4 separate regions of the Homo sapiens genome follow, and regions 1, 3 and 4 are each reported to be linked to region 2. Evidence: microRNA targets listed by miRTarBase, many of them from high-throughput screens and not tested one by one. Region 2 holds a microRNA gene; each other region holds the end of a gene's coding sequence.
The links. The annotated mature microRNA hsa-miR-4649-3p reads UCUGAGGCCUGCCUCUCCCCA and lies in region 2 at 2,608-2,628, opposite strand. An mRNA with a match to its seed (bases 2 to 7 or 8) in the 3' UTR can be bound and repressed. Matches are read on the target gene's strand: a 7mer-m8 pairs with bases 2 to 8, a 7mer-A1 pairs with bases 2 to 7 and ends in A, and an 8mer does both.

Region 1 (7,580 bases), not on the chromosome of region 2:
TTTGGCAAATGTACCTAGTTTGAAAGAATACAAAATTGATGCAAATGCTTACACTAGGAAGTTTCCAATTCGGAGTTAAAGCTTTCCATTTACAAACTGTATAAAAAGCAAAATACCAACGGGAAATTTTCAGCATGACATTTGAATCTAATTTGGAGGTGGCAACTAGTACGGTTGTTGGTATCAAACAGCCTTGTGTGAGGAGATGGCAGTGAACACTTCTAGTTAACATTTACCATTTGTTTTACTAAATAAAACATGGTCAAGAGCTTGGGTTTAAAAGGCAGTAAAAGGCTATGAGATTAGATTATAAGAACAGGGTTGACCTACACAACATTGGGGTATGTTTGTGATTCAAATACTTATTCCAACATTGGATTGGATGGCATTATATTACATAGATAATGCCTAGCAAGAGGGTAATTACAGCAAAAAACCAATGAGAATAGTATTTCTTAGACTGTTTATAAAACAACAAAACCAACTAACTCAAATCCCAGACTAAAAGGAGCTTCACAGATAGTGTATTACTCAGGGTTCACCAGAGAAACAGAACCAACAGGAGATTATATGACCATATATATATATATTATAAGGAATTGGCTCACATGATTATGGGGCTGAAAAGCCCAAAATCTGCAAAGCTGATGTCCCAATTCAAGTCTGAAGGCCAACAGGCTGCCACAGAATCAGGAAGAGCCAATGTTTCAGTTAGGAGGCAGTCAGGCAGAATTCTCTTGGGGGGTTGGGGAGAGTCAGTCTTTTGTTCTATTGAGGCCTTCAACTGACAGGACAAGGCCCTCTCACATTATGAAGGGCAATCCTCTTTGCTCAGGTCTACCCATTTAAATGTTAATCTCATGCAAATATACCATCACAGAACACCCAGAATAATGTTTAACCAACTATCTGGGTATCCTACGGCCTAGCCAAGTTGCCACATTAAAATTAGCCATCACAGGTAGTAAGTACAAATATTTCTGGGACAATATTCTTGAGAGACAGCTAGATATACATTCTCCAGGTACTTTTATATTCATCTATTCCTCTCTTCTAAATAAATCTACTTTCAATGTGCAAATATACCTCATATGCATTGCCTTTCAATATTTCCAGAACAGGGTTCTTTTTCTCAGCACTACTGACATCTTGGGCTAGATATTTCTTTGTTGTGAGGGCTGTCCTGTAAGATTGTAAAATGTTTAGTTGCATCCCCGGCCTCTATTACCCATGTTTGAGAATCACTGTTCTAGATTGATACCAATACAACAATTTGTTAACAGCTGTTGTATTGTGGCATCACTAGAAATTTCAAAGTCTAGGTGCAGTGGCTCATGCCTGTAATCCCAGCACTTTGGGAGACTGAGGTGGGAGGATCACTTGAGCCCAGGAGTTTGAGGCTGCAGTGAGCTATGATGGCACCACTGCACTTCAGCCTGGGAGACAGAGCAATATCCCATCTTTAAAAAAAAAAAAAGGAAAAAAAGAAAAATTTTAAAGTGATTTCTAACTTGTCTTCATTTTTCCTTAACCACTGTAGATAACCTTCTCAGGCATTAGCAGACATTTGTATATTTGGGGTTGCCTTATATTTCGTTGTCTTTCCTATTAACTGCTGGGATGAAAATATATATGCTAAATATAAAAATATATATTAAATATACATTATATGAATATACACATGTAATATTCATGATAGTCTCATATTTTGGCGAATTAATAGCCGCTTGGCAGATTGGTCTGAATTCTGACAGCACAGACCACAGTGTCTTAATTTGCAAGTCTCTCCTCTGATACAATCATACTTGATGGCTTTTTTTCCACATTAATCTAAGACGTCACTTGACAGGAAGTTAAATGCCTCTATTGAGAAGGTATGTGGTCCATTTTCTTTCTTACCATTGGCCAAGAATATCTCACCTGTTAGGGTTAAAGGGATGAAAGTGATAGGGTTAAGTTTAGCGATAGCTTAATGTTCATTCTGTGGTGGTTTTTTTTCTTTTAACTTACTGGACTCTAGTGGGAATCCTGGAGAATGGAACCTACTCCTCTTTCCTCTGAGTTCCTGTGTGTGGATTTCAGGCCACAGAGGTGCAAGGTGCATGAACAACAAGGTGCTGGTGTGCAGGCCTGTGTGATTTCCTGGATTTTGACTTGCTAGCCTGTTAGGCTCATTTACAATTTCACAAAATTGGAATGTAGAATTTTATATATCAGTAATGGCATCTGTTTGCTTTCCTATCTCGTTTGCTGTATATGCTTGAGTCTCCAGATAAGTTGGGTGTCTTGAAGTGGATATGGGAGACCTGGGTCTGACTTCTGGTTCTGCTACTTAAACTAGTGTATGTCCCTTCTCAGATTTAGTTTCATTGTCTATACAATGTGACTTACTTTTTCTTTTGGGACTATTTCAGTGATTAAACATGACAGCTTATATATAAATGAAAGTTGTAAACACAGTGCTTGGCACAGAGTGGGTAACCAATCAACATTATTTAAATGAGTAAGAAAAGTGAATTTGAGCAAAAAAATAAAAAACAATACTATTACCTTATAACTCATAGAATAAAATAAGTATCAATGAGTCCATACTGATGTAAATAAATAATTGAACAAACAAGGAAATGGGGGAAAGGAGATAATTCTTTCTTAAAGAGGAATTCTGTAATAAATGTAACACATGTTGAAGGAATGAGAAAAATAGAAAAACCATTACAGTAATGGCTGTCGCAGGCAAGAACTACCAATATTTGCTAGAATTAGCAGGCAAAAGTTTGAGGAAAAACAGATATTTGTATAGCCTCAAAGTACTGCCCCTAAAATAGATATTAATTACAAAGGGAAAATAATAACTTTATAGAAAAAACTGGCAGATACCACCTTAGCCAGGTGATCAAGGTTGACATCACTGGTAATAAGACATATTAACATTATGTACCCCTGATATAATAAATCCAGAAGGACATACTCACTTCTGTGGTATTCTGGTCAAAAAATGCATAACTTTAATCAAATCATGAGAACATTACAGACAAATCCAAATTGAAGGACATTCTACAAAATACACGATGGATACTGTTCAAAAGTGTGAAGGTCATGAAAGACAGGGAAATACTGAGGAACTGTCACTGGTCTGAAGAAACCAAAAAGATACAACAACTAAGTAAGTGCAATGTGGGATCCTGCAGTGAATCCTGGAATAGAACAAGGACATTAGTGGAAAAATTGGAGAAATCCAAATAAACTCTGTAGTTTAGTTAATTATACAGTACCAGTGATGACTTCTTAGTTTTGATAACTCTATTATGGTTATACAAGAATTTAACACAGGGAAAGCTCAGGGAAGGGGATATGGGAATTCTCTATTTTTTAAACTTTTCTATTAAGCCTGAAGTTTCAAAATAGAAAGTTTTTAAAAAAAAGTTAATAAGACAGCTGTAATTATATTGTTGTCTTTTTATACGTTTACAAAGGGCCAAATTCACTTGATGCTCTTTCTACCACTACCCTGCTGATGTGGTTTGGCTGTGTCCCCACCCAAGTTTCATGTCGAATTGTAATTCCCAGTGTTGGGGGAGGGATCTGGTGGGAGGTGATTAGATCATGGGGGCAGATTTCCCCCTTGCTGTTCTCATGATAGTGAGTTCTCAAGAGATCTGATTGTTTAAAAGTGTATAGCACTTCCCCCTTCACTCTCTTGCTCTCTTGTTGCCACAAGATGTGGTTGCATCCCTTTCATCTTCTGCCATGATTGTAAATTTCCTGAGGCCTCCCCAGCCATCCTCCTGTACAGTCTGTGGAACTGGAAGTCAATTAAACCTCTTTTCATTATAAACTACCCAGTCTCAGGTAGTTCTTCATAGCAGTGTAAAAATGGAAGAATACAAAAAATTGGTACCAGAGAAGTGGGACATTTCTATAAAGATACCTAAAAAATGTGGAAGCAACTTTGAAACTGGGTAACGGGGAGAAGTTGCAACAGTTTGGAAGGATCAGAAGAAGACAGGAATATGAGGGATGTTTGGAACCTCCTAGAGACTTGTTGAACAGTTTTGACCAAAATGCTGATAGTGATATGGACAATGAAGTCCAGGCTGAGGTGGTCTCAAATGGAGATGAGGAACTTATCAGGAACTGGAGCAAAGGTCACTCTTGCTATGCTTTAGCAGAGACTGGTGGCATTGTGCCCCTGCTTTAGGGATCTGTGTAACTTTGAACTTGGGAGAGATGACTTAGGGTATCCGGCAGAAATTTCTAAGCAGCAAAGTGTTCAAGAGGTGGCCTGGTTGCTTCTAAAAGCCTATGCTCATTTGCATAAGCAGAGATAACTTATATTTAAAAGCAAAGCAGAGTATAAAAGCTTGAAAATTTGCAGCCTGACCATGTGGTAGAAAAGAAAAGCCATTTTCTGGGGAGAAATTCAAGCTCACTGCAGAAGTTTGCACAAGAGGAGCCAAATGTTAATAGCCAAAACAATGGATAAAATGCCTCCAGGGCACTTCAGAGACCTTCGTGGCAGCCCTCCCCAGCCCCACCAAACAGGCCCAGAGGCCTAGGAGGAAAAAAATGGTTTCGTGGGCTAGGCCCTGGGCCCAGCTGCTCTGTGCAGCCTTAGGACATGGCAGCCTAATTCCCAGCTGCCCCAGCTCCAGCTGTGACTAAAAGGGGCCAAGGTACAGCTGAACCATTGCTTCAGAGGGTGCAAGCCCCAAGCCTTGGCAGCTTCCACGTGCTGTTGGGCTTATGGGTGTGCAGAAGGCAAGAGCTGAGGTTTGGGAGCCTCTGCCTCAATTTCAGAGGATGTATGGAAACGCCTGGATGTCCAGGCAGAAGTCTGCTACAGGGGTGAAGCCCTCATGGAGAGCCTCTACTAGGGCAGTGCAGAGGGGAAATGTGGGGTTGGAGACCCTACACAGAGTCCCCACTGGGGCACTGCCTAGTGGAGCTGTGAGAAGAGAGCCATCATCCTCCAGACCCCAGAATGGTAGATCCACTGACAGCTTACACTGTGTACCTGGATATGCTGTAGGCACTCAACACCAGCCTGTGAAAGCAACCATGGGGACTGTACCCTGCAGAGCCACAGGGGCAGAGCTGCCTAAGGCCTTGGGAGCCCACTCCTTGCATCAGAGTGGCCTGGATGTGAGACATGGAGTCAAAGATTATTTTGGAGCTTTAAGATTCAAAGAGTGCCCTGCTGGGTTTCAAACTGGCATGAGGCCTTTAGCTCCTTTGGGCCAGTTTCTCCCACTTGGAATGGGAGCATTTACCCAATGCCTGTACCTCCATTGTATCTTGGAAATGACTAACTTGTTTTTTATTTTACAGGCTCATAGGTGGAAGGAAGTTGCCTTGTCTCAGATCAGACTTTGGAGTTGGACTTTTCAGTTAATGCTGGAATGAGTTAAGACTTTGGGGGACTGTTGAGAAGGCATGATTGTGTTTTGAAATGTGAGAAGAACATGAAATTTGGAAGAGGCCGGGGTGGAATTGACATGGTTTGGCTCTGTGTCTCCACCCGAATCTTATGTTGAATTATAATTCCCAATGTTGGGGGAGGGACCTGGTGGAAGGTGACTGGATCATAGGGACAGATTTTCCCCTTGCTGTTCTGCTGTTCTCATGATAGGGAGTGAGTTCTCACAAGATCTAGTCGTTTAAAAGTGTGTGGCATTTCTCCCTTCACTCTCTTGCTCTCTTGTCGCCATGTGAAGATGTGCTTGCTTCCCCTTCACCTTCTGCCAAGTTTCCTGAGGCCTCTCAGCCATGCCTCCTGTACAGCCTGTGAAACTGTGAGTCAATTAAACCTCTTTTCTTTATAATCTACCCAGTCTCGGGTAGTTCTTTATAGCAATGTGAGAATGGATTAATATACCTGCCACCCTTTTTGCTGGGACCATGCCTCAGAGTTTACAAATCTGCTCCCCATGTACTATCTCCTGGAATCCTCAACAATGCTGTGAGACATTCCCACTTTGAGTTGATAAGATGGGGCTCAGAGAGGCAAGACCTTACGCTTGCCTAAGGTCACCCAGCTGCTCTTTCCTTTCTCCTGCACAGTTACATCAGAAGCCAGTTGGTGACAGAAAAACACGGTCCGCTCAACAAGGATCATACACAAGCCGGTGATACTTTATTATATAAGAGAGTTGTCAAAAGGACAGTTTCATTTCTGTTTCAGAATCCCCACATTCCAGTGATCCATCTGTTGACACAATTAACATAAACTATTTGCTGATATTTACTGAGTGCTTGCAATGTATCAGAGTCATTAAATAAGATGCAACTTCTACTGTGAAAACTGGAATCTTCATTAGGACACAGACTTAGAAAAGGCCCAGTTTCAAGGATTCTGACTTGCACAGACTGAGCACTCCCATTTCCAGAAGTTCGAATACCTCCTTTCTTATCTAAATGAGAGAAAAGGGGGGAAAAAAAGATTAAGATCAAGCCAAAATGGTCTTGGTGAATACATTCAACCATCAGGACTCCCTGATATTTACCCAGCTGTTATGGCCAGAATCAGAGAGTGCAAAAGTCCTAACACACATTTGATTCAGAGTTGAAATTTTTAAAATTATTATTATTATTATTTTGAGACAGAGTCCCATTCTGTTGCCCATGCTGGAGTGCAGTGGCGTGATCTCGGCTAACTGCTATCTCTGCTTCCCAGGTTCAAGTGATTCTCATGCTTCAGCCTTCTGAGTAGCTAGGATTAGAGGTGTGTGCCATGATACCTGGCTAATTTTTGTATTTTTAGTAGAGACAGGGTTTTGCCATGTTGGCCAGTCTGGTCTTGAACTCTTGGCCTCAAGTGATCCACCTGCCTTGGCCTCTCAAAGTGCTGGGATTACTGGTGTGAGTCACTGTGCCTGGCCTATTATTATTATTGTTTTGTAGAGACAGGGTCTTGCTTTGTTGTCCAGGCGGGTCTCGAACTCCTGGCTTCAAGTAATCCTCCCACCTTGGCCTCCCAAAGCACTAGGATTACAGGTGTGCACTGCCATGCCTGGCAGAATTAAAATATTTATATAAATGAAGGAGGAGGTACTATATAAAACATTAGTTTCATTAAAGTGCCCTTTTGTTTGCAGCCATTCAAAATAAAATGCTATACAAAGGTGTTTCAAGGACTCCACAGTGTGCTTTCTGTAAACAAGATTATATACAATAGTTCAGTATAGGATTTTATTGCCTTAGGATAACTGCTGAGAATGACAGCAACAGAATAAAAATAACTATGGGTGACAAGATGTTTTTGGACATTTCTCATTATTAGAATTAGAAACTTAGTAGATTAGTCAAATTTAATATTATAACTGAAATAATCAACTATGGCCTCATGCCTGATATCAAATTTGTTAAACCAGTTTTAAGAAACCAGTCAAGTCAGGGGACAAAATGCACGACTGTGTATGTGTGTGTGCATGTGCGTGTGTGTAACTGAGCAAATTGTTTTTTAACCTGAACTGATGTCTGAAATAACTCACTGATCAATTATAATCAGGTTTGGTCAATCTGGAGATATAGCTTTATGTGATAAATTAATTCATTCAGCATGTTTGGAAGAGTATTTCCAA
Region 2 (7,501 bases):
AGCCCCGCCCTCCCCCTCTGAGTTCCCGCCCCCAGCACCGCCCTCCCTCTCTGAATTTCGCCCCCAGGCTCCCCAGACTCTACCTGCTCGCTGAGTTCCTCAAGCCCCCACCCTCTCTGGCGGGTCCTCCCTCAGAAAGATGGGGTAAAGGTGTGCACACTAGGTACCTGTCTTCACGCCGTGATTAATGCCACTCACAGAGATGGTGGCGTTGGCAATGGGGATGCCTTGCTCGTCCGTCACCACCCCCTTAATGCCGCGGTGCACCTAGGGAAGCAGGTGAGGGCTGCTGGTCCTCAGGAAGGTCCAATGTGGTCCGCTGCTCCCTCCCGCCCATCCAGGAGCCTGTGCAGCCTCCTCTCCCCAGGCATTGCCCTAGCCACCCCACCTGCTCCATGAAGGTGAGCAGCGCCTCCTTGTTGTTCTCCCACTCGCGGGGCAGCTCACTCTCATGAGGGAACTTGTCACAGCCCAGGTAGAAGGAGAGCTCCAGGCAGTTGGTATGCAGGTAACTGAAGTCATTGATAGCTGGCCGGGGACAGATACAGACCCAAAGTCAGCCCCTCTCCGGACCAGGCCCCGCCCACAGCCCCTCCCAGGCTGACTCACTCCCGGTCCGGGGGTTCCACTTGGCCCCGTTGACGATGCCCATGCCGCCGGTGTAGTCCTGGGCTTGGCAGCCTCCGCGGTAGGGCTCGGTCAAGGTGAGGTGTGCGGAGGCGAAGGAGATGGCAAGCCACCGGAAGATGGCGTGGTCTGGAGTCTCCTGGGCCTCGGAGACCTCGTCCTCATCCTCCCCCCGGGCTGCTGCCATGGCTGCGGCCAGCAGCTGCTCCTGGGTAGGCGTGCGGGCCATATCGTAGGGGTAGGATACTAGCCGCTCGCCGCCGTTCAGATTTGCTCCCAGCACGAAGGGGTTCTTCTCCATCCAGGCAATGATGGCCCGGACCTCCGTGGATACCTGGAGTGGCCAGCACGTGTGAGGCCAGGGCTGCAGCTCCGGCCACTATCCCCAACCTAGCCCGATCACCCTCCATGAAGCTTCACACCAGTACTCGCACGATCCCCTGTCCCCCAACCCCCAGAGCCTCAGCGTCTGGAGTTCAGGCACCGTCAGCCCCACCCCCAAGCCCAGAACACCAGGACCCCAGGGTCCAGCTGCTCCCTCCTGCCCTTTCAGCCAGGCTGTAGCCTCACCGTGGCATCTGGCGAAAGGTAGCGTTCAGGGATGGGCAAGTTATTGTTGGGGACCCGGTAGGGGACCCATTTCCTCTCCTCAGCTCCCCAGAGCACAGAGTTGAGATCCGGGAAATCTTCAAAGATGTCAAAGCCCTCCTCAGTCCACAGTCCCAGCGCCCAGTTCCCAAACTCTGAGCCCTGTGGGGAGCCAGCAGGGTAGGCATCGGCTACCCACACCCCCACAACCCCCAGCTGCCTGGACCCTGGCCAGCCTCACCCTTCAACCCACCATCTGCGCTGCCACCTCGTAGCCATCAGGGTTCAGTGAGGGCACCAGGTGGATGCGTGTGTCCTGCACCAGGCTGCGCACACGTGGGTTCCCATCGCGGTACTCTCGGCACAGGTACTGCATGAGCAGCAGCAACAGCTCTCGGCCCAGCACCTCGTTGCCATGGATCCCAGCAGTGTAGCGGAACTCGGGCTCCCCTGCAAGGGCGGGAGCCTCAGTGAGCACTCAGTCTCCCGAGGCCCAGGGCAGCTGAGGAAGGACCCAGACCCACCTCATACCCGAGGGTCTGGGGGACAGCTGGGGCTCCTAGGGCCCTGTAAGACAAGCCAGAATCCCCAGAGAGGCTCCGGAACAGGCGGGAGGCAGTGAGCTCTGCACATCAGCAGCAGAGGCCAGCTGCTGGCCCCCACAGACCCTCACCCAGTTCATGCTCCCCAGGGTTGTCTGAGATCTCCATGGCATAGATCTTGAGGCCTCGTGAGCTCTTGCCCAGGCTGTAAGTGCGGGTGATGGTGGGGCACTCCTCGTTCACCACCTTCATGAGCTGGGGCAGAGGGGGAGGACGTGGAATCAATCATGCAATCCGTCCCCCGCTGACCATGCCCCTTCCACTTCCAGGGCCTGCTCTATGGCGAGGGACGGGCATGACCCCTTCACGCAGCCCCCAGGTACTGGCCTCCTTCCTAAGGTGAGGGACAGCCAGCATCCCTGGAACCAGTAGGGACTGGGCCCAGTGACAGAAGCACCAGGCACACACTCCCGTCAGCCACAGACAGGTCCCACCCCCAGCCCCAGGATATATGCTCCCAACCTGGCGCATGTCCTTGTAGCTGTGGTGCCGGAAATCCAGGTCATCGGTGGCCACCACCTCATTCTGTGCGTAGTAGCTGTAGACAGCTGCAAGGGAGGCGGGGTTGTCTTTAGCTGGGTGCCGGCTGGCCCACCCTAGCACCCCACCTCCACTCAGAGCCCCTGCCAGCCCTCCACACTCACGGGCCACAGAGCACCCCAGCACCTCCAGGCGCATGCACAGGCTGCCATTCCAGGTGAGTGGGTAGATGCGGATGAAACGAGCCACCACCGGCTCTGGGAGCTCACTCAGCACGGGTGTGTCCTTGTCCACGTTCCCATGAAAGGTCTGGGGAGAGGCAGGCCTCAGAGCAGTACTGCCAGCCCCTCTGAGAGCCCACCCCTCGCCCAGACAATGGGAGCAGAGCCAAGAGCCTGGGCATGGTGCCCACCATTTCCTCATAGCCGTTGGTGTACATCACCCATGTCTGGCTGTCATTGCTGAAGCCCACGAAGAAGGTGGTCACAAAATCGTCACTGTGGAGTGGACAGTGGTCAGAGCAAGGGTCTTCCCCCTCCCAGGCCCTCAGGTGGCCTGAGCCTCCCTCTTCCGAGCCCCAAGAATTTAAGAGCTAGCAGGGTGGTGCTGCACGGCCCAGGTGTTGAGCCTGGGTCCTATGCCCGTCACATAGCCATGGGCAGGTGATCTGTCCCTAAACTCATGTGCTATCAGGACACAGGGGCTGACTGACCAGGCTGAGGAGTGGGGATGGGCAGGGTGAGTCCCTCACTGATCTTTTTGGCCTTCTTTGGCTGGGCCAAAGAAGGGCCCACTGGAATCTCCTTAATGGGACACAGAGCCATGCCTATGTAGCCACTCCCCTCTGCCAACTATCCATGAGCCTGGCCACGCACTGGATGCTGGAGTCTCTGCCCTGGGTGATGACGCCTGTGAACCGGGTAGTCCTCCTGGTGTCCACCTCTATCCACTGGGTCCTGGCATCGTCCTCGGCACACCACGCACCATCATAGTAGTCGTCCTCAGTGGCACCGGTCTGTCCAGGGGGCAGGGGAGGCTGAGCATGGGCGGAGGAGTCCCTTATCCCAGTTGGGAGATGGGCCCATCCCAATGCCCACCTGCATGTTGAGCCGGCCGCGCTGTGCCCCCAGGCCGTGGCGCAGCATGGAGGAGGCTCGGATCTGGTTGTCCTCAATACGGTGTGACTCCATCCCAATGGGGGGACACTCTGAGGACGCGTACCCCAGAATGGTGGCTCACTAGCTCCATCCTTCCCTCCACCAAACCCAGAACCAAGGAGCCCAGAGCCCACTCCCGGCACATCGGGGGCACAGTCAGAGGGCAGCTCTGGTCAGCTGGTGGCTCCCTGGTGCCCTGCACCAGCCCACCTGGAATCGACTCAAAGCCAGGCCAGGAGCTGTTTCCAATCCCAGCCTGTGCTTCCCCTCCCTGGGCCTCAGCTGCCCCATCTGGAGAACGGGCTGACCATGCCCAGCTCTCAGGGGACACACGTGAAATCACAGGTAGAGCTCCCCCAGGGCGCAGCCACAGATGTCATCCAGATGGGGACCGTCTGCACAATGGCCCTGCAGGGATACCTGTGAAGGTACCTGAGGTCCTCACTCCCCACCAAGGCCCCAGGTCCTCCCCCTACCACGCCCAGCCACTAGGGGCCCTGGGGAGCTGCCACCCTCCTGAAGCAGGCCAGCCTGGGGTCCAGGGCTGGGGCAGCCAAGCGAGGCTATCCTGGGCTCCCGGGGCCCCTCCCTTCTGGGTCCCAAGAATCTGAGTAGGAAAGGGTTCCGGGGACCTGGGTCCTGTTTGTGACATTGGGCCAGTCACTTGTCCCAGCACCCCCATCCTGTGGCCCCCACCCTCACCCCCTTGTGCCCCCCACTTACTGACTTTCTCCGTAGGCGTCCACTCCTCCTCCAACTCCTCGCCCTTTCGGGGCTCTAGGGACAATGAAGGGAGGACATGGCACCAAGGGCCCGGGAGGCAATCAGGAGTCCAGATGCTGCCCCACAGGGACCCAGGCCCCAAGCCCCAGCCACACACCTTTGTGGTCCTTGCCCTTCTCCACTGCCCACTTGTCGGTCTCCTCCTTGGGGCTGCTGTCCTCCTTTTTGGGTTTCTCTGGAAGGTGCAAGGTAGGAGGGGCCAGTCAGCCTGGCTCTGGGCTTTGAGGACCATGTGGGGTGGATCAGGCAGGCCCCAGGTGGCCTTCAGGGCAGGCCTGGTGTGGGAAGTCCTTGGTCCCACTCACTCAGCTCCTCCTTCTCTTCGTCTGTCTGGCGCTCAGCATCGGGCTTCTGGGGCGGAGGAGGCCCAAAGTAATAGTCCACTATGGGGAGGGAGAGCCAGCTGAGGCTGCCCTGACCCTGCTGCGGGGCCTCAGCTCCTGGGTCCACAGGAGCTCAGCAGGACAGGACCGCGCCAGAGGGGAGGAGGACGGGAGATGGGGGACAGCTGAGTTGGGAGAGGGTCTTGCAGGAGTCAGGAGCAGCCCGAGCTCAGGGGCAGCTGAGCAAGACCCTGCTGAAGTCACCAGCCCGGCCTTCCAGGAGCATCTGGCCTGGGGAAAGGACTCGAGGCCCAGGGCATGGGAAAGGCCTGGAGGGACAACTGGCACCTGTGCCTGGGGTTGCGGGCTGGGGGGTGAGATGGGGAGACATTGGAGGCACTGATGGGGACCTGGGGGCAGGGAAATGGCGATGCACGGGCTGCCACCCAGGAGGAAAGGGAACCTGAGGGCTCCAGGGACGCAGGGGCATGAGCAACAGGGAGGCAAAAGCCCTCGGGCTCCCTGAAGAGAGTGGGGCAGTGGCCACGAGCCAGCGGGAAGCCAGTTAGAGCACAGGACTGGGAGGGCTGGAACCCACATGGGTGACAGGGCAGAGTGTGTGCCTAGGGACACCCCTGTGGGGGTCACAGCCAAGCAGGAACCAGGGAAGCGGCCAAGGAAAGACCAGCCTGAGGGCAGAGGAGACAGGGCAGTGGCTGGGGTGGGCACGCAGGGACAGCAGGGACAGCGAGGTAACCACGGGCACAGGTGGGGTTGCAAGGTGGGTGAGTTGCCCCAGCTGGCTCCTGACCACACCCCAGCCCCGACCCCCACCTGCCTATGTCCCTCAGACTCTGGGGTGCTGGGTACTCACTGTCATCGTAGTTGGGGATCACGTAACCATCACCATAGTCAGGGGGCAGCGGGGGCAGCAGAGGCTTCACAGGAGGCTCTGGGGAGGCGGGGAGGTTAGGAGGGGGCCAGAGCGCCGTGGCCATGGCACCTCCTCTCCTGCCCCCCATCCTACCAATCCTCTCCTCCGGGGCTGGGGCCGGGGCCTTCTCCTCAGGGGGCTCTGGCCAGACCCGCTCGGGCCTCCTCCTTCTGCTTGGGGGTGGCCTGGGTTGCTTCTGGCGCCGAATGTACTCAACTGAGGGGGAGGCTGGCTCAGAGTGGGGCCCAAGGCTGGGATGGGCCCATTGGCACATCCCCCAGGCCAGGGGTCCGACCCAGGTGGGGCTGGCAGGACCCTACTCACAGTCCTCATAGTCCTCCCTCTCGATCTGGTCATTGTAGTCCAGTGTGGGTTGCTCGGTCTCCTCCTCCGGCTCTGAGGGGAAAGCGCTGGTAGCTGCCTGACAACCCCACCCAGGCCTACTCTGGGGAAGCCCTCAGTCCAACCAGCCAGGGCAGCTGGCCCCAAGGCCAGGCGGATGACGGCCACTCACCAGGCTGGTGCTCCCGTGCCTCCACATGGGTCTCCTCTCCTGGATTCTGCCAGTTATTTGAGAGGGGCGCCCCTGCAACACAGGAGTTCCAGAAGCAGGTGGGCGGGAGGCCTGCTCTGACCACCTTGGGAGCCTCAGGCCACCAGCCACCCATAGAGCCCACACAGAGCCTGTGGACACCCTCCTGAGGCCGAGCTCACTCCAAGGAGGCCTGAGCTCCTCTGGCCTTCAGCATCCTGCTGGCATCTCATGGGGCCAGAGAGCTGGGCCCACCTTCTGGGGAACCTACTGTGCTGCTGGAGGCCCTACCACAAAGCTGTCCCCAGCGGGAGAAGGCAGGAGGGAACTCCATGGGCTCAGAGCCCAGGGACATCTGGGCAGGGGCCTGAGGGACAGAGGTCCCACCCAAAAGGCTGCCAAGCCCTCTCCCTACCCAAAAGAGGCTACAGCACTGAGGGAGCCCACCAATCAAATTGTGAAATTTATAGCAAAAGTGAGGTTCCCATCCAGTGGGGAGCTGAAGGTCTATAGGAAGCAGGGCCCCAGAAACCTGCCTCCCACTCCCTGCCTCCACCCGAGCAGGCAGTCAGAGCCCCATCACCCCAGAGGAGCCCGGCACAAACCTCCCTCCTGGGGTAGCTCCTCGGGGCCAGGGCTGGGGGGTGGGGGCAGTGGCCACTCCAGGGTTTCTGAGGGAGCCAGAATGGGGGGCCTCTTCCCTGACGGGGGCTTCTTGGTGGCCTTGGGTGGCTTCTCTTTGGGCTTCTTGGTGGCCTTGGGTGGCTTCTCCTTGGGCTTCTTGGTGGCCTTAGGTGGCTTCTCCTTGGGCTTCTTGGTGGCCTTGGGTGGCTTCTCCTTCCCCTTCTTGGGCGGCCTGGGGGACCCCTCCAAGGACTCCTTGGGCACCTTGGGGCCTTTGTCTTTCTTGCCTTTCTTCCCTTTGTCTTTGGTCTTTTCCGGAGGCACTGTCCAAGATGCAGACTCGTGTCAAATGAACAGAGCCAGCTCTGTGCCCCCATGAGGCCCCTCTCTAGATGCCCAGAACCTGGGCACAGGGACTCTTGTCAGTTCCCAGTGCGGATCAGCAAACTGAGAGGTTAAGTCATTTGCCCAAGTGGCAAACTGGGATCCGGACCCAGATTTTCTGTCTGCAAGTCTGGGGCTGTGACCACCAATCTCAACCTCTCTAAAGACTGAGCGTAGGGTTCCCAGTTCCCAGGGGGAGGCCCTCATCCCCCCACCTGCCAAAACCTCAATAGGGGTTCCTTACTATCCACTCCTCCACTATTCTGTTCTGGGCACAGAAGGGGCAGAGAGGTGACTGAGCCATCCAGGCCTGGAGGAGCATCTGGTCATCCCTGCCAACTGCCATACAAAGGAAGGGACATGGGCCCAAGACCTTCCCCTGGTCTCCTACGGGGCAAGAAAAGCTTCAAAGAAAAGGGACACTTGGTTGAGTATTGAAGCCCAAAGAAGAGGAAGTGGTCTCCTTT
Region 3 (7,580 bases), not on the chromosome of region 2:
TTTCAGCTGTGTGTAAATCAACCCCAGTGAAAATGTCTGCTCCTCAGGGGCAGTGGTTTGAGCCAGTGTCTGTTACTCTGACAGTGTTGAAATGCGCCTTGATTAAGGAGGTAATAAGGGGGTTATTAGTCAGTGCTTTGGAACAGCAAAGGGTAGGATCGGGTAGCATATGAACTTTATAGCTTATGAGCAGCTCCCGTAACATTTAAACAGGTTAACAAAACAGTGCATGTCACTCATTGGTGTTTAAAAATAGACAACATTGTGTAGTTAAATAGCAGAGCTGAGGAATATAAGATGCCTCTTTCATATTCTTATCATTCCTCTAAATGTCAAATTCTTTAGCTTTGTAGATCATTTAGGTCAGCCTTTCTCAACTGGGGTTCCGTGAGAGAATTAAAATTATAATTTTAAATGAAACAACTACTTGAACACCTTTCTTCTCAGTTTTCCTAGGACTGTACACAGCTAGTACTTTCTAGATGCCTAGGGGAGAAGTTAATTCATTGCCTACAGTGGATGCCTTGGGCAGTAGGGCTGTGTCCGTTCTCAACTTTGAGAAGGGCTGAAGCAGGTGCTAATAGGTAGTTTATTAACCTTTCGATTTTACAAAACCATTTCCTTCTCTTTACTGATCACCTTTTTACTCTTTTGTAGGATAAAACTCAGAAAGTGAAGGTGAAGAAAGAAACGGTGAACTCCCCAGCTATTTATAAATTTCAGAGTCGTCGAAAACGTTGACGTGTTATAGATAAGCCTTGTCATTCTGTATCAAAAATCTGTTGTCGTTTTCTAGTAACTTCAAATTCCATTACTCCAAATGGCATGGTTTTCCGGTTTGTAACCATAACTAAATTGTCAGTCTGACATTTAATGTCTTTCTATGGACAACATTAAATCTCCCTCCCTTCTGTAATTGTTTTTGGATTGTGAAATTAGTCTTATTTTTATATACTTAATTTTTTTTTTCTTTGAGATAGGGTCTTTGTTGCCAGGCTGGAAGTGCAGTGTGTGATTATGGCTCACTGCAACTTTGAACTCCTGGGCTCAAGTGATCTTCCTGCATCAGCCTCTTGAGTAGCTGGGACCACAGACATGTGCCACCATGTCTGAGTAATGTTTAAATTTTCTGTAGAGACCAGGTTTTGCCATGTTGGCCAGGCTGGTTTTGAACTCGTGGCCTCAAGCGATCCTCCCACCTTGGCCTCCCAAAGGGCTGGGATTACAGGGATGAGCCACTATGCCCAGCCCATAATTTTTTTTGTTATGAAACATAGGATCTCATTACAGCAGATTTGGAAAGTAGATTAATTCATTCCTAATCCCAGTGCTTATTCAATAATAACAAATATTTATTGCATGCTTAACTGTGCTAGGAGCTAGAGCTGTGGAGGTGGACAATTACTGTGAGTAGTCTAGTTGATTTCCTCCATTTTGTAAAACGAGGCATCACTTTTTGTCCATGTTTTTGTGTTTTATAGTTACAGTAAACAATTTGATGTCCTACTTTTTTTTTTTTTTTTTTTGAGACGGAGTCTCGCTCTGTCGCCCAGGCCGGACTGCGGACTGCAGTGGCGCAATCTCGGCTCACTGCAAGCTCCGCTTCCCGGGTTCACGCCATTCTCCTGCCTCAGCCTCCCGAGTAGCTGGGACTACAGGCGCCCGCCACCGCGCCTGGCTAATTTTTTTTTGTATTTTTTTAGTAGAGACGGGGTTTCACCTTGTTAGCCAGGATGGTCTCGATCTCCTGACCTCATGATCCACCCGCCTCGGCCTCCCAAAGTGCTGGGATTACAGGCGTGAGCCACCGCGCCCGGCCGATGTCCTACTTTTTAATTAAATCATTAGCTCTTTCCCAGTTTGTTACATCACAAAAGTTTTTTACAGTAATATATGCTAGAGTAAACGTTAAAATAAATATTATTTTTAATGATTGCATAGTGTTTTATCTAGTGGATAGACTGATTTTACCCTCACTCATTCTTCTTTTATTGGCTATTCAGGTGGCTTCATAAATTATCCAAGGAGGAATTTTTTTCTCTTACTTAACAGCTGCAGATAGAAACTCTTGGAACAAGGAACCTACGGGAGCACCTCTTCCTTATTGATGAAGCTCAAATCAGTATAGGCCTGGCTGTGTCTCTGTCCTCTGCACTCCATGCCAACTCACAATTCCAAGGCTAGAATAGCTTGGTGCAGACCTTCACTCTGGGAATATGGACCCCTGGGTGTGTTGGCCAGCTTCTTTCTCTTCTCTGGTTCTCTCCTTCCTTTGTTTGCCCATATCAGGATTATAGGCCAAGGACAGTAAGGACAGGACTGAACATGCTTAGAGCAAACATGGGAGAACAGGGAGCGGGGTTCTGGGGGGCTTGCGTAGCCCTTACACCAAGGAGGGAGAACAGCCATGTGTGGATTGTAAGGCTTTAAAAGAAAATTGTTAATGCTTAATAAGTGCCCATGACTGTGAGCTTCCTGTACAAGCCTAGACTAGAAGCCTGTTTCCTCAGGGTGTACCCAGTGGAATTTAAATCAGGGGCCCTGGAAAACAGCAAGAAGGGTCAGGAAACAGAAACCAGTAGGTTTTGCCTTCAGGAAGGAAATGCTTCCCATTGTGTGTATGCACTCCCTTCTGGGGAGGTGCTGAGCTCAGTCAATGCTGAAAGTTTTAGAGACTTGAGGATCAAACCAGGGAAGGGACTCATCATAGTGATACTAGACAGGGGAGTGAGCAGACTAAGCAGCAGTCTGATCCTGGGGTCAAACAGCTGGATGCTGCTGCTCCGTCTCTTGCCCCTGCTGGGTGGGAAAGTGGGGGAGAGGATAGGGAATAGACCTAAATGCCTTCTCACGAACCACACACCCACATGAAGGTAGGCTCGCCTCATGGAATCTCATGTTCACAGATGCACAAGGCACATATAACTCAGGCCTCATAAACAGGTACAGGCATACCTACACACCGTCTGGCACAGGAGCACAAACAGTGACGTTTGAAGAGCCACACTCCCAGGCCAAATGGAGCAGGAAAGTGCATCCTTTTGGTGTACTGTGAGTTCCAGGCTGAAGGTAATCGGAGTGCTGTAAGGGGAGCTGGGTGTTCTGAATTGCTGTTACACTGAGTGCTGTCTCCAAGACTCAAGGATTTTAAGCAAAGAGATTGGCTGTCCCTGTGACTAAGCAAAGACAGGCCCCAGCCCCATGTATTCTGAGAATTGGCCAGGGCTTTGCCGCTTTGGTACTCAGTGGGACCCTAGACTCTTGGCTTGTTGGGGAGGGAAGAGTATTGTTTGCTTAGCCGCCCTTTTTGGCCTAGGGGTGATTTGGGCTGTTGGTGGCATACTGCTCTAGCTGTGCCAAGGGGGCTGTGGGCAGCCTATGGAGCTGGAGGGATTTTCTGAGTCAGGACTTGTTTGGCTCAGGTCTCTTGTACAAACCAAGTCTCCAAACAGCAGTTCTATGGTGATGTGGACCCTTCAGGTCTGTCCAACAGAGAATTCAGTAAGCCTGGCTCAGTCTTAGTCTGTTGCTGCATCCTAGGGCCCTTCCCACCAAAGCAGGAGAGTGTCAAGCCCTAGCTTTATTCTTGAATAAGTTCATCTTTTTCTTTGAGACAGAGTCTTGCTCTGTCACCCAGGCTGGAGTGCAGTGGCGCGATCTTGGTTCACAGCAACCTCCGCCTCCTGGGTTCAAGCGATTCTCTTGCCTCAGCCTCTCTAGTAGCTGGAATTACAGGCGCAGAGACGGGGTTTCGCCATGTTGGCCAGGCTGGTCTCGAACTCCTGATCTCAGGCGATCCACCTCTCCTTGGCTTCTCAAAGTGCTGGGATTACAGGCATGAGCCACTGCTCCTAGCCAATCTTTTTCTGATTTCTAACTGCTTCCTGGTGCCAGGGTGGAAAAGGGCCCAGCAGGTGGAGCTGCTGCCCCTTTGCTGGGATTCCTTCTCAGGGACTTGGTGTCCACCCACCCAGCACACTTGTCTTCTTTCAAAAGTGTCCTTGTACTTAGGAAGTACTTGCATGTGTTTGCTTATTGAATTTAATGCTAGGGGGGAGAGCTCCCATGAAGAAATGGGATTTTCTCACCCTGAGTTTGAGATGAGTGTGGCCCCAGGAGGAAGACTGGGCAGGAAGGTGCTTTTCCTTCCTGTTTCTAGTGAGGACCATGCAGGGAGGTCTCTGTCACATAGCCCCAAGTTTCCCATAGGGTGGTTCCACCCAGACCTGGGAGGGGTCTCCCTCCGTGCAGCTTTAAGCATCTGTTTGTCGCTCACTGTCCTCTCCCCCATGCTGCTGACGGTGGGGCACTGAGCAGTTAGAGCTGCACGTCCTCCAGCAGGGAAGGCAGCCAACAGATGCAGACTCGCTCTGCCTACCTGTGGAGGCCGGTGAGGCCAGGGCCTGTTGGGACTTGAAACAGTGAGGCAAGTGGGTGTGTGGTGCTGGGCTCCCCGCTCAAGTTCTCCCAGCGTGCCAGTTCCCGGAGCCTTATGTGCAGGGTGTTGGGGAAGGGCGGGCTGAATCGTGGGTGGGAGTCTTGGCTCAAAGCCCCAGGTGAGTGGAGGAATTGGGGGCGGACCTGAAGTACTGTCTTGAAGTGGACCTGGCAGGCCTCTTGGGCTTGTGCAGCTGCCTCCCCGGGTCAGAGGGTGCGCCCTCTGTACCCAACCAGGTCTCCACAGGTCTGTCTCAGCAAAAAGTGCAGGGAAGGATCAGAGAGAAGCTGTAAAACAAAGGGAGGCAGAGCTTCCCTTCCCAAGCCTACTGCTGAGAGGTTGGAGTGTAGAGGAGGCTGCCTAGTTCATGCTTCTGCCTGTTCTTTCCTCAACTGCTCTGGCCAGAGGGAAGAACGTCTCCGCTGCTTCTCAGGCTCCCTGTAAGGAATTTCCTGGCTCCCTATTCCTGGATCCATCATCATCACATTTAGGAAGTCTTGTCCAGTCTACTCCTAGGTGAAGCATACACCTAGGTCTCCTTGTTCATCTTGTCCGCTTCGCTTAATGCAAAGGGAACAAACTGCTTGGGGCTGGGGTGGTTGCACAGTCCAGCCCTGTGCTCCTGCGTGGTGGTAGGAGAGGCTCGTCCAGAACGGAGCTAAGGACCCAGCTTTTTCTAGGCAAGAGGAATATATCAAGGGAACTGCTGTGTTTAGGGGTAAGCAGAGGATGGAAAGGGCTTCCTTTCCCCTCCCTGCATCTGTCACCTGACGGCCATGCTCAGATCGGGTTAATGAAACTGTGGTGCCCCAGGCAGCTGGGCAGCACCCCCCTGCCCTGAATCAGCCTGAGTCATTTACAGCTTTCTCCCAGTTACCCCAAAGGCTTCTCTCAGAGGTGACAAATGTAGGGGGTTGGTTTCGGGTTTCATGTTTTCACATTACTGGGTGGAAAAAAGAAAAAACACCTTTCCAAACCAAAAAAACCAGCTTCTATAGCAGAAACAACTTGTCCCGAGAGCACTGAAAATTTCCCCATCCTCTCTCCTCATCTGCTCAGAGACACTGAGACCAGTGATGGAGGGGTTAAGGGGAGGGGTTGGAGTCAGGCTGAGTGGAGTGTTGGGGACAGCCCCTTTGGAGGTGGCAGCACCTGCCTTCCTGCTTATAGGCAGGGGAGGACCTTTGCAGGGCCCTGCAGCTCTGAAGCCTGTGGTCTCCAGTGCCCAGAGATGGATTGCCAGGGCATGGGACAGTGAACTCAGGGTGGCGAGGGACCAGGGAAGGAAGGGACCATCTCCCCTCCCTAGCTATTTTGATCCCAGGAGGTCTGGGACAGGTGTCCCTCCCTGGCAGAGGGTTCTTGAGGTGGAGTGGTAGGTGGAATATAGAAGGTCCATCTGGCACATGGAGCCTAGGGGGCAGCACCCCCTCCTCTTGCTGGCTGGTAGCATTGTAGACCACCCCAGCCCCCCGCCAGGGGCAGATGGTCTCCATAGCAGATGGAGACTAGGCTGGCAGTGGCAGGATGGGCTTTCTAGTCTCAGCCTGGCCACTCTGGCTAATAAGACAATCCGGGGGCAGTGACAGGGCTAACTGCTGGTGTGTGTGTGTGTGTGTGTGTGTGTGTGTATGTGTATGTGTGTGTGTATATAGGTGTGTAGGAGAGGGAGCCCTGGCCTTATTGGGCCATTCTGGGGGAGAAGTAAAGAGGAGTCCCAGACAGAGTCAGTGGATCTTTGGGGCCCCCTCAAGTTTGCTATGTAAGCGTGGCAGGCTCTCAGTGCCTGGGCTCCTGAAGCTGCCCTGGTTCTTGTGTGAAGGGGCCGGCTCCTGGGCTGGGAGCCTCTGCTGCAGCTGGAGCCTGGACTGCTTGATTTAGACCCCCTGCCAGGTCCCCAGAGCTCGGCCTGGGCAGCAGCTCCTCCCAGAGGACGCGCCCGTTTATTATGCGCTCCTGCTCCCTCATGGCTCAGGCAGGCAGCGGCCTTCATTAGCGGAGGAGCTGGGGTCTGTTTTGGCTGCCTCATCAGCATCAGTGAACTGCGTCCCTGCGAGATTTGATACAATTTAATTAACCTAATTAAAAGCTCTGATTGCAGAGATGATTGGGGTAGCGCCAGCAGCGACTGCATATTTATAATGAGCTGCAAGGTGTGGGACCGCAGCCAAACGCCACGCATCCTAATGAGCGGGAGCCGGGAGCCAGGGAGCGGGAGAGGGAACGTTTATTTTTGGCAACAATGCCCAGTTCCTCCCTGCCAGGGAGTCAGAGACCCAGGGAGCAGAGACGGACCTGCCCACTGTGCTCTTCCGCACAAGGTGGAAGCAGAAATGTGTGCTCTCCACCGGTTCTAGGGCCCTTGGACGCCCCAGGAGCACACAGTGCCCGTGTTTCTGTTTGTAGAGTAGGGGGCTGGGACCCCAGCCATGCACTTTTCCTGCCTCTCATCTCTGGGAGTCAGGGGCTGCCTTCTGAACCGGGGCCTTGCTGTGAGGAAACAGGACCCAGCAGAACCACCTTGTTTCCAGGCTCCAGGATCCCTGGGCTGTTTTCTCAAACTTGCCAAGGAAGAGACAGGGGCTGGCAGGACAGGCTGAGAGGCTGCTTGGGAGTCAGAAAAGGGGTCTGCATATCCAGGAGTCCCAGATGAAGATCCTGGGCCTGGGACAGAAAGGAGAAACAGGAGGGGCAAACTTCCCACTCATCCTGGAAGCTGGGGACCCCTGTCCCCATCTCCTCACTCCCTTTGAGGACCCTGCCCAGGGAGGCCAGCTGCCCTGGACTCTTCCTGTCTTCTCCCACTGCCTCTGTCTGGGGAAGTCTTGGTTTGTCTGACTCAGCGTTTCCGCTGTAAATCACATCTAATAATACCGAGAGTGAGAGCTGAGACGGAGGTGCTGTGGGTGAAGGGGCACCGGGGAGGAGGGGCACGCCGCCTAGGTGCCAATGGGTGTTGTTCAGGGAGGGAGCTCTGAGGCGGCAGGAATGGGGGCTGGGCCCTGAGGAAGAAGGTGGGAGCAGCCTGCCACCCCTGCCCCCATTCCTGCTCTGGAGCTTGTGTAGGTCATGAGCTCAGCCAGGCTGGCCCAGCCCCCCAGTGCTTTGAGTGCCGCCAGGACAAGATGAGATTTGTCCCAGC
Region 4 (7,518 bases), not on the chromosome of region 2:
ATATATTAAAACTTGTAATGCTATTAAAAATGTGCTCCATATGCTCAAGACAATGAGGACAAAAATAGAAAATATTAAAAACTTAATAAATTATATAAATATATATTTTATATATATATATCCTTTAGGATATATATGATATCATATATCTATATCTATCCGACTGGTTCTGTTTTTCTGAAGAACCCTAATAAAGATTTATGTACTGAGAGTGGTTCTAGAGAAACAGAATTTCAAGGACAAGTTTTCTGATTTGGATCTGAGTTTAAAGATGCTAATGACTCTATTTCCAGTAGTAAAGAAAGCACTTACACACCATGGCATGAACTGGTAATAGAGATAAACGAAATATCTGCATTGGATATTTCTGATCAACCACTCATAAGAAGCAAGGAACTAGGCAACTAGCAGCATTTACTGGCACATGATAAGCACTACTGAAGTTTTAGCTTTAAATGTTAACATTGCTCTTTTCTGGTATTCAAGTCTTTGCATTACACATCTGAAGATTGAGGACCAGTGTTCTGTCTCAGAAGAGATGGTAATTCCAGCCTACGTTGCTGAGCTCCTGTATTAGATCTTTGAGGCACTGCTATTTCAATATGAGAGAAAAGTGTCTCCCCAGCATCTGCAGACACAATATATCTGATTTATAAATTTAGTTTGATCTCTTTGCATTACTTGCCAGGATTGCCAAAGGGCAAGCTTTTGAAGCAAAATTCCTCAGAAACCCACTGAATGAAGCAACAGTTTCACCCAAAAAATCACACCAGTTCACAGTCTCTACTACAGACTGAATATTTGTGTCACCCCACCCATTCATATGTTAAAGCTTTAATTCCCAATGCAATGGTATTTGGAGGTAGATTCTTTGGGGGATATTAGGTATAGATGAGGTCATGAGGGTGGGGCCCTTTTGATGATGTTAGTGCCCTGATAAGGAGAGTAAGAGACCAGAGCTCCCTCTTTGTCCACCATGTGAGGACACAGAGAAAAGGTGGCCATCTGCAAACTAGGAAGCAGGCCCCTGATAGACACTAAATTTGTCATCTTGGACTTTCCAGCCTACAGAACTGTGAAAAATAAATGTTGTTTAAGCCACCCAGTCTGTGGTATTCTGTTATAGAGACCTGAACCAACTAAGACAGTCCCCTCCTTTCTCCCATCTAAATTGGAAAGAATGTTTATTGCAAGATTATAATTCCCAGTATACATCCAAAAGAACTGTTAGCTCCAGTCACCTCCACTGTTAGAAGCAGGACTAGCAGTCTCTTCATAAGCCAAAGTCCCAAGATCAACTTTTCCAAAACTTAGGCCTATTTGTCAACATTGTTTAGATCTCAGTAATTGCTAAGCTTCCTCCTTAAGCCTTCTGGCTCCTTGTCTACCACAATTTTCAACTTCCCTACCCTCAATCAATGCTCCACAGGGAAGGTTACAGGAAACCTCCATCTATATTCAAAACAAGGAAGGAAGATAATTAGGAGGATCATACTACTCATGGAACAAAAGAAATGTCTTGCCTATTTAAGTCTATGCTGACATTTCATAATACTAGCACTCTAGCTATAGCAAGAAACCACCCCTACACGACTCATTTAACTATGCTGCTGTCTGGCAAGACACGACTAGCATACAATATCCGCAAGGTCTACAAGACAGTAAAGGGGCCAGTGCTAGAGTGAAACAGGATGAGCTCTACTCTGGGAGATAAAGAGATTTTTTAAGACTAGACTTTCTGCTAACTAGCTGTGAGACTGTGGAAAGTGACTGTAAAATGGACATTTTATTGAGCATATACAGCCAGTGTACTGAGCAATGAGGATAAGTCACTATTTTCACCAAGCTATAGGGGATTTGGGAACCAGATTTCCTCAAAAGTGCCTTTCTCTGCCACATTTAATGAATCTGTGCCCATGTCCATGCTAAACAGCCAATCATTACATTATTAAGAGACTCAAGATACTTTGGAAGGCTCATTATCATCATACCAAAGCTGCTTAATTCTATAGGGTCACAAGGGGGTCCAGTCAGTGGGCTTGAATACAGCTTTATATAATGCCTGACTTCAGGAGTTGCTCTTGGTGCTACCTGTGCAAAAAAGAGTTTCTGGACTTAGAGTTCAGTTGTGGCCCCTTATTAAATACTGTCATAATGCACACGTGGGTTGTATATGGCCTAATGATACACCAATCCTAAGCCTTTCATGTTAATCCATTTTCTCTTAGGGATGCCAGGCAAAACTTTTTCTTTAATAAGAAAATTATATTTTACTGTTGCTGAAAATTCCTTGACCTCTCTGTGTTCCCAGTTGACTAGGGCAGCTGATTATTTTGTAATAGACCCTCAAGCCAACATCGCATGTGCTTCGTTTTTCAGTCAATGTTTCTCTGTCTTGGACATCATTGATCTGCCGTATAACTAAGTCCCCTTCCCTGGAATTCAGTGCAAGTCTCCTCTCATAGAGATGCATGGAAATAACAGTGATAACAGAGCAGTTCCTATGTTTGTCTTTTCACAGGAAATTGTCCTCAGCCTATGAATTGAAAAGAACATTTTCATGTTTTCTTCTCTTGCCCACCTTCTCACCTCCAGCCCACCCCTTTCAAACAACGGCAGTCTTTCCATCTGGTCTTGTTAACCCCTGGCTGAGGAAGCAAATTTTTCTATGTGATTGATATCTTGAATGTAAATCTAGAGCTTTGCCTTCACAGCCTGACAGGAATAAATAAAAAGACAAATTGTAGGTGCTTTGGTTGTCACAGCAGGGGCTCCTATCATGGCATCAGCTTTCTCGTCCACAAATGTGTGAATGGCCTGAAAGTCCAAGGTAATTGAAAGGCAGGCATAAACCTGTTTTCTCAGACATTAATGGAAATTGCCTCCTACTGATGTCGCTTTTCTGGCTTAGTGTTCTGAGAAAGAAACAAGCCATTCTGTTTCTAACACAAGTATTGAGTACGCTTTAACTAGTCCATCAAGGAAGAAAAATCTCAGTGGACTGGTATGGCTACTCAGTTCTGCCAATCCCATACTAAGAATGGCCCAATTTATCTCTCTCTTTCTATCTCTCCTGCCTCCCCTTTTCTTTTCTCTTCTCTTCTTTGTCTATCCGCTCTACTTCAGAGAAGAGAAAGAGAAGTATTGGATACCCCTGAATACCCACTTCATCTTGTGCCCAAAGTATGCAATATCTTAAGTTTTCTTCAAGTTTATGATGATGACCACTTCCACTAGCTATTATGCTGTGAAAATAATCCAAATGCCTGTGGTGGGTGAGTATGTGTGTATAAGTGAGTAAGTTTGTGTGTATTATGTGTGAGTATGTGTGTATTATCTCCAAATAATCCAAATGCCTGTGGTGGGTGAGTATGTGTGTATAAGAAATGTGAATAGGAACATAAAGAAAATACAGAATAATGATAAACCATGGTGCCGTGGTTTGCATGTGTTTCCCAAAGTTCATGTGTTGGAAACTTAACCTCCAATGCACGTGTTGGGAGGCAAGCCTTCATAAGAAGTGATTAGGACATGAGGTCTCTGCTGCTATGAATGGATTGTGTTGTTGTAACGGGAATGGGTTAGTTATCATGAGGGTGCTTTTGTTATAAAAACGAGTTCAGCCCCTGCTTCCTCTTGCTCTCTCTTGCCCTTCCACGTTTTGCCATAGGATGATGCAGCATGAAGGCCCTGCCAGATGCCAGCACCATGCTCATGGACTTCCCAGCCTTCAGAACCAGCAGCCAAATAAATTTATGCTCATTATAAATTACCCAGTTGGTGATATTCTGTTATAACAGCATAAAACAGACTGAGACAGGACGGGTTCAAAAAATATTGATTAATACACATACCTTGACCGAAAGAAAAAGTGATTACTAATTGGACACATAAGTGGACACATAATAAGCCGGGCACATAAATGGACACATACTAGGCTGTTTCAGGGAATGCTGTATAAACCAGCTGCTCAGCACTTGCAGCTCTTAGCAGTTACAAAACAACTAGATGGTTCACAAGACTCATGTGAAGCTGAGATTAGCCATGATCTGCCCAGCAAAGAGGGCAACCCTCAATCAGATTAGCCAGTTACCTGGCTAGTTGCTAGGTAATCCAAAGTTCCGGGGGTCACTTGTCAGATTTCCTGCTTGGCACTCCACATCCCTACCATACCCTACCTGAATACGAAGAACCCTCCTTCTCTTTCAAGGTGATTACAAGTCATCCTGCACTGGGAAAGAAGGTTACATTAATAACAGTTTGAATGGGGCTCATTAAATCTCAGGGCTTAGAGAAGCAGCACTACTTTTGATCAATTAGGAAATACATAAGATGTCACAGGAAGGCACTTCTCAAAACGATTAGGAAATATTCTCAGGCACCTTCTCTGCCCAGGTAACTTGTAGCGTCCTCATGAGTGGTAAGCGATGATCTGTAGGATGTGCCTTGGCCTCCACATAGCTCCCTGAAGCTAGTGATGATTAATGCACCAGCCAATTTCCTTCTCTTTGTCTGTTCCTTCTGAGGGCCAAATGACTCTAATCTCAGCAATGCTTTCTGCCCTCTGCCTCCTCCAAGGCTCTATCCCCTTCTAACCCAGATGACCCTCACCTGATCTGAGGCACAGGAAAGGGCAGGAAGATGGAATTCTCACAGTCTTTATTCTTTTTCCATTTATTTTTGTGGTATAAAATCATTCCCTTAACTTTCCTCAAAGCCTCTCCATAGGTGTTCAAGAACTTATTTTGGAAGTTTCAAAACATTTTTAAAAATTTAATCTTAAAAATGACTTTCTCCTTGCTGACCTGCTGCGACAATCCTAATTCTCCACAGGCAATTGTGAATGCCTCTGTTGGACTAGAGGAAAGGTCAGCACAAGAATGTTCAGAAAAGAAAAGGAGGAAAAAAATACAGTATTTCAAGACAACACCTCTTCACGACAACATTCACTGCTCCTCTCCTTCTCCTCTCCTTGACTTCTCCTTCAATAACTCTGCTGAAATTCCTTTCTCAAACCTCTTAGTTACATCTACTCATTTCCTTTCTTTCAAACCTCAATCTCTGATGATATGTGATAATGCTGACCATATCCTCTGTATTATTTAGGAAGGGGGCATGGTGATACATAAGCGGTAGGAATCTAACTCCATACTAGCTTAAGCTAAGAGGAGAAATTATTGGAAGGATACTGAGGTATTTCCTTCCAAATGAATTACTTGTTCAACCTTTTGTCTCAGGGTCTGCATCCAGGCCTAGCATGTTCAAATGTGTCCTCCCATCCAGGGTAGAAATTAACTCTGTAATAACCGCTAACAAATGCAGTTGCAATGTCTGAATGTCATTGTTTTTAACCAATTGAAACCTGCCTCCTTGTAACTTCAACATATTATATCTGCATCTTCCCTTAGGGCACACTTTGATACAAAAAGCTAGATCTGGATCAGACATAAAACTTCAGGCAAGAACACATTAACCATTCATCATGAAAATCTTCTCTAAAATGAAACATCATACAAATGAAACAATTCTGAAGAATAGCATCTTTAATGAGTGTTCTAATCCTTGTCATCTGAAGTTTTGAAATATATTTACCAGGGTCAGAACAATACAGAGATAGTATTTGTATAATATAGCTTATTTTAAATTTCATTTAAGCCCTCTCATTTCTCCTCCCACAGCTGCTGTTTTGTTTTGATGAAAGAGAAATAAGGAATAAATAAAAGGTCAATGCTTCAAACTAATCTACCTGTGTACTCCCTGAAAACTCTGGGACTGTATCCACAGAATAGGGAAAACTATTCTCAAATGCACAGTCACTCATGCCTCAGGCATGAACTGATGTTCTTTCAAAAGAAAAAAGAACAGGGGCAAACTTCCAGTCCTATGTTTGACACATACTAAAACCCCAAAGAGAAGACTGAATTGTATTTGTTCTCAGACAAGACACCCCTGTGACCACAGCATAATGAATTCTGCTCTAACATTTTAGTGGTTCAATCTCCCGACAAGAGTAAGTATTCCAGCCAGGCGTGGTGGTTCATGTCTGTAATCCCAGCACTTTGGGAGGCCAAGGCAGGCGGATTACCTGAGGTCAGGAGTTGGAGACGAGCGTGGCCAACATGGTGAAACCCCATCTCTACTAAAAATGCAAAAATTAGCTGGGCGTGGTGGCGGGCACCTGTAATCCCAGCTGCTTGGGAAGCTGAGGCACAAGAATCGCTTGAACCCAGGAGGCGGAGGTTGCAGGGAGATGAGATCACCCCACTGCGCTCCAGCCTGGGCAACAAAGTGAGACTCTGTCTTAAAAAAATTAAAAAAAGAATAAGGAATTCCTATCTGTGGTGGTTGACTCTATAGGATGAAGTGTGAGATTACTACTCAGGATAGAAATAGTTTGTATCTGTCATTTTTGTTCAAGTCCTCTTTATATTTGGTTCCATTGAGGAAAACCACCCTCTCTAATCAGGAGATCACGTTCTTTCTGTTATCCTAGTCATTTTGTAGAGTGTGTTCTGGCCCATGGGCTGTGTCAATCATACTTAATAAAATGATAGGCCTGAATGGAGCATTCAAGTTTCTCTAGTGCAATCCTCTAATTTTACAGATTTTAAAAAACCAAGGCCCAGAGAAGGTAACACCTATTTCAAGAACACGCAGCCAGCCTGTGCAAAGGCTCATATCCTTACTGACATTAAAAAGGAGGCAAAAGAGTAATTCGATTCAGATTTGGGAGAACAAAGGATTGTGTTTATACAGATGGCTGGGAGTTGAGGAGGAAGGTAGACACTGGAGAAGAAGGAAAAGCTGTCCAGTGCCCAGTTGTGCAGATGTTTTCACTCAGCCCCAGCTGCCTGCTGGATTCCAAGCAAGCTGACCAGGGCCTCCAGGAGCCTACTGGGTTTCCGCAGCACAAGGCCTTATGCTGGTGACAGAGATGCTCTGCCCTCTGCATCTCAGAGCGCCCGCCTCACACTCAGACATCGTCTGCTCCTTGCCGTTCACTTCCACACAAATGCTAAACCCTTCTTCCTCGCACTCCGATGCTTCTCGGCAGACACATTTGCTGCTCTCAGCTGGAAAAGTAAGTGAAAGAGGCTTAATGGTACATTGTGGAGGTCGGGGAGTCAAAGAACATCACCTCCAAAGTAATAATGTGGTGATCAGAGCTGTAGAAGCTCCTGCCTGGAATGACATAATAAATTATCCCCTGGAAAAGCAGTAGGACCAGGAAATTGGGGCATTTTGCTCCACTCCAAAGAAATAGGTTTTGAGGTTGGTAGCAGGCTTTATATTGGTTAGACCACATGGGGTGGTTTTATCCAAGTCAAGAGCTCTTCAACTATCTCCTACATACATGCTGCTGTCCATATAAGCCAGCAACTGAGGTCAAATGAGAAGCCCTCAACAAAGAACCAAGTCAAGACTCAAACAAAGAGAGAGAGAAAAAAAGAGAACTTAACTTGCTTTGAGAGAGAGCATGGCATGCAAAAGGCTACAAATCCCAAAAAACAAACCAGA

Region 1: the mRNA of CMSS1 is a reported target of hsa-miR-4649-3p. Seed matches in the 3' UTR shown: 7mer-m8 at 5,751-5,757 and 7mer-m8 at 3,763-3,769.
Region 3: miRTarBase lists UTP11 as a target of hsa-miR-4649-3p. Seed matches in the 3' UTR shown: 7mer-m8 at 1,628-1,634.
Region 4: the mRNA of C7 is a reported target of hsa-miR-4649-3p. Seed matches in the 3' UTR shown: 7mer-m8 at 6,203-6,209, 8mer at 4,616-4,623 and 7mer-A1 at 4,521-4,527.

What each region holds. Positions count from the first base shown.
Region 1 is chr3:100,177,135-100,184,714 of GRCh38, reverse strand. It overlaps CMSS1 (cms1 ribosomal small subunit homolog), which reads right to left. Exons shown (of 10, transcript NM_032359.4): 10 at 2,983-6,410. The coding sequence ends at 6,327. Among named protein-coding and RNA genes, the nearest start is that of FILIP1L, 66 kb to the right of the region's middle.
Region 2 is chr7:44,106,018-44,113,518 of GRCh38, reverse strand. MIR4649 (microRNA 4649) reads right to left here and starts at 2,670; the gene lies at 2,607-2,670. AEBP1 (AE binding protein 1) reads right to left here. Exons shown (of 21, transcript NM_001129.5): 2 at 6,632-6,973; 3 at 6,009-6,080; 4 at 5,819-5,890; 5 at 5,588-5,710; 6 at 5,435-5,512; 7 at 4,543-4,620; 8 at 4,335-4,412; 9 at 4,178-4,231; 10 at 3,395-3,504; 11 at 3,173-3,312; 12 at 2,710-2,794; 13 at 2,462-2,606; 14 at 2,280-2,365; 15 at 1,889-2,012; 5 more.
Region 3 is chr1:38,022,888-38,030,467 of GRCh38, forward strand. It overlaps UTP11 (UTP11 small subunit processome component), which reads left to right. Exons shown (of 8, transcript NM_016037.4): 8 at 658-1,933. The coding sequence ends at 741. Among named protein-coding and RNA genes, the nearest start is that of UTP11, 14 kb to the left of the region's middle. RefSeq lists enhancers at 3,216-3,715, 3,882-4,434, 4,435-4,986, 5,806-5,855, 6,989-7,068.
Region 4 is chr5:40,980,947-40,988,464 of GRCh38, reverse strand. C7 (complement C7) reads right to left here. Exons shown (of 18, transcript NM_000587.4): 18 at 3,822-7,073. The coding sequence ends at 6,892. Among named protein-coding and RNA genes, the nearest start is that of C7, 75 kb to the right of the region's middle.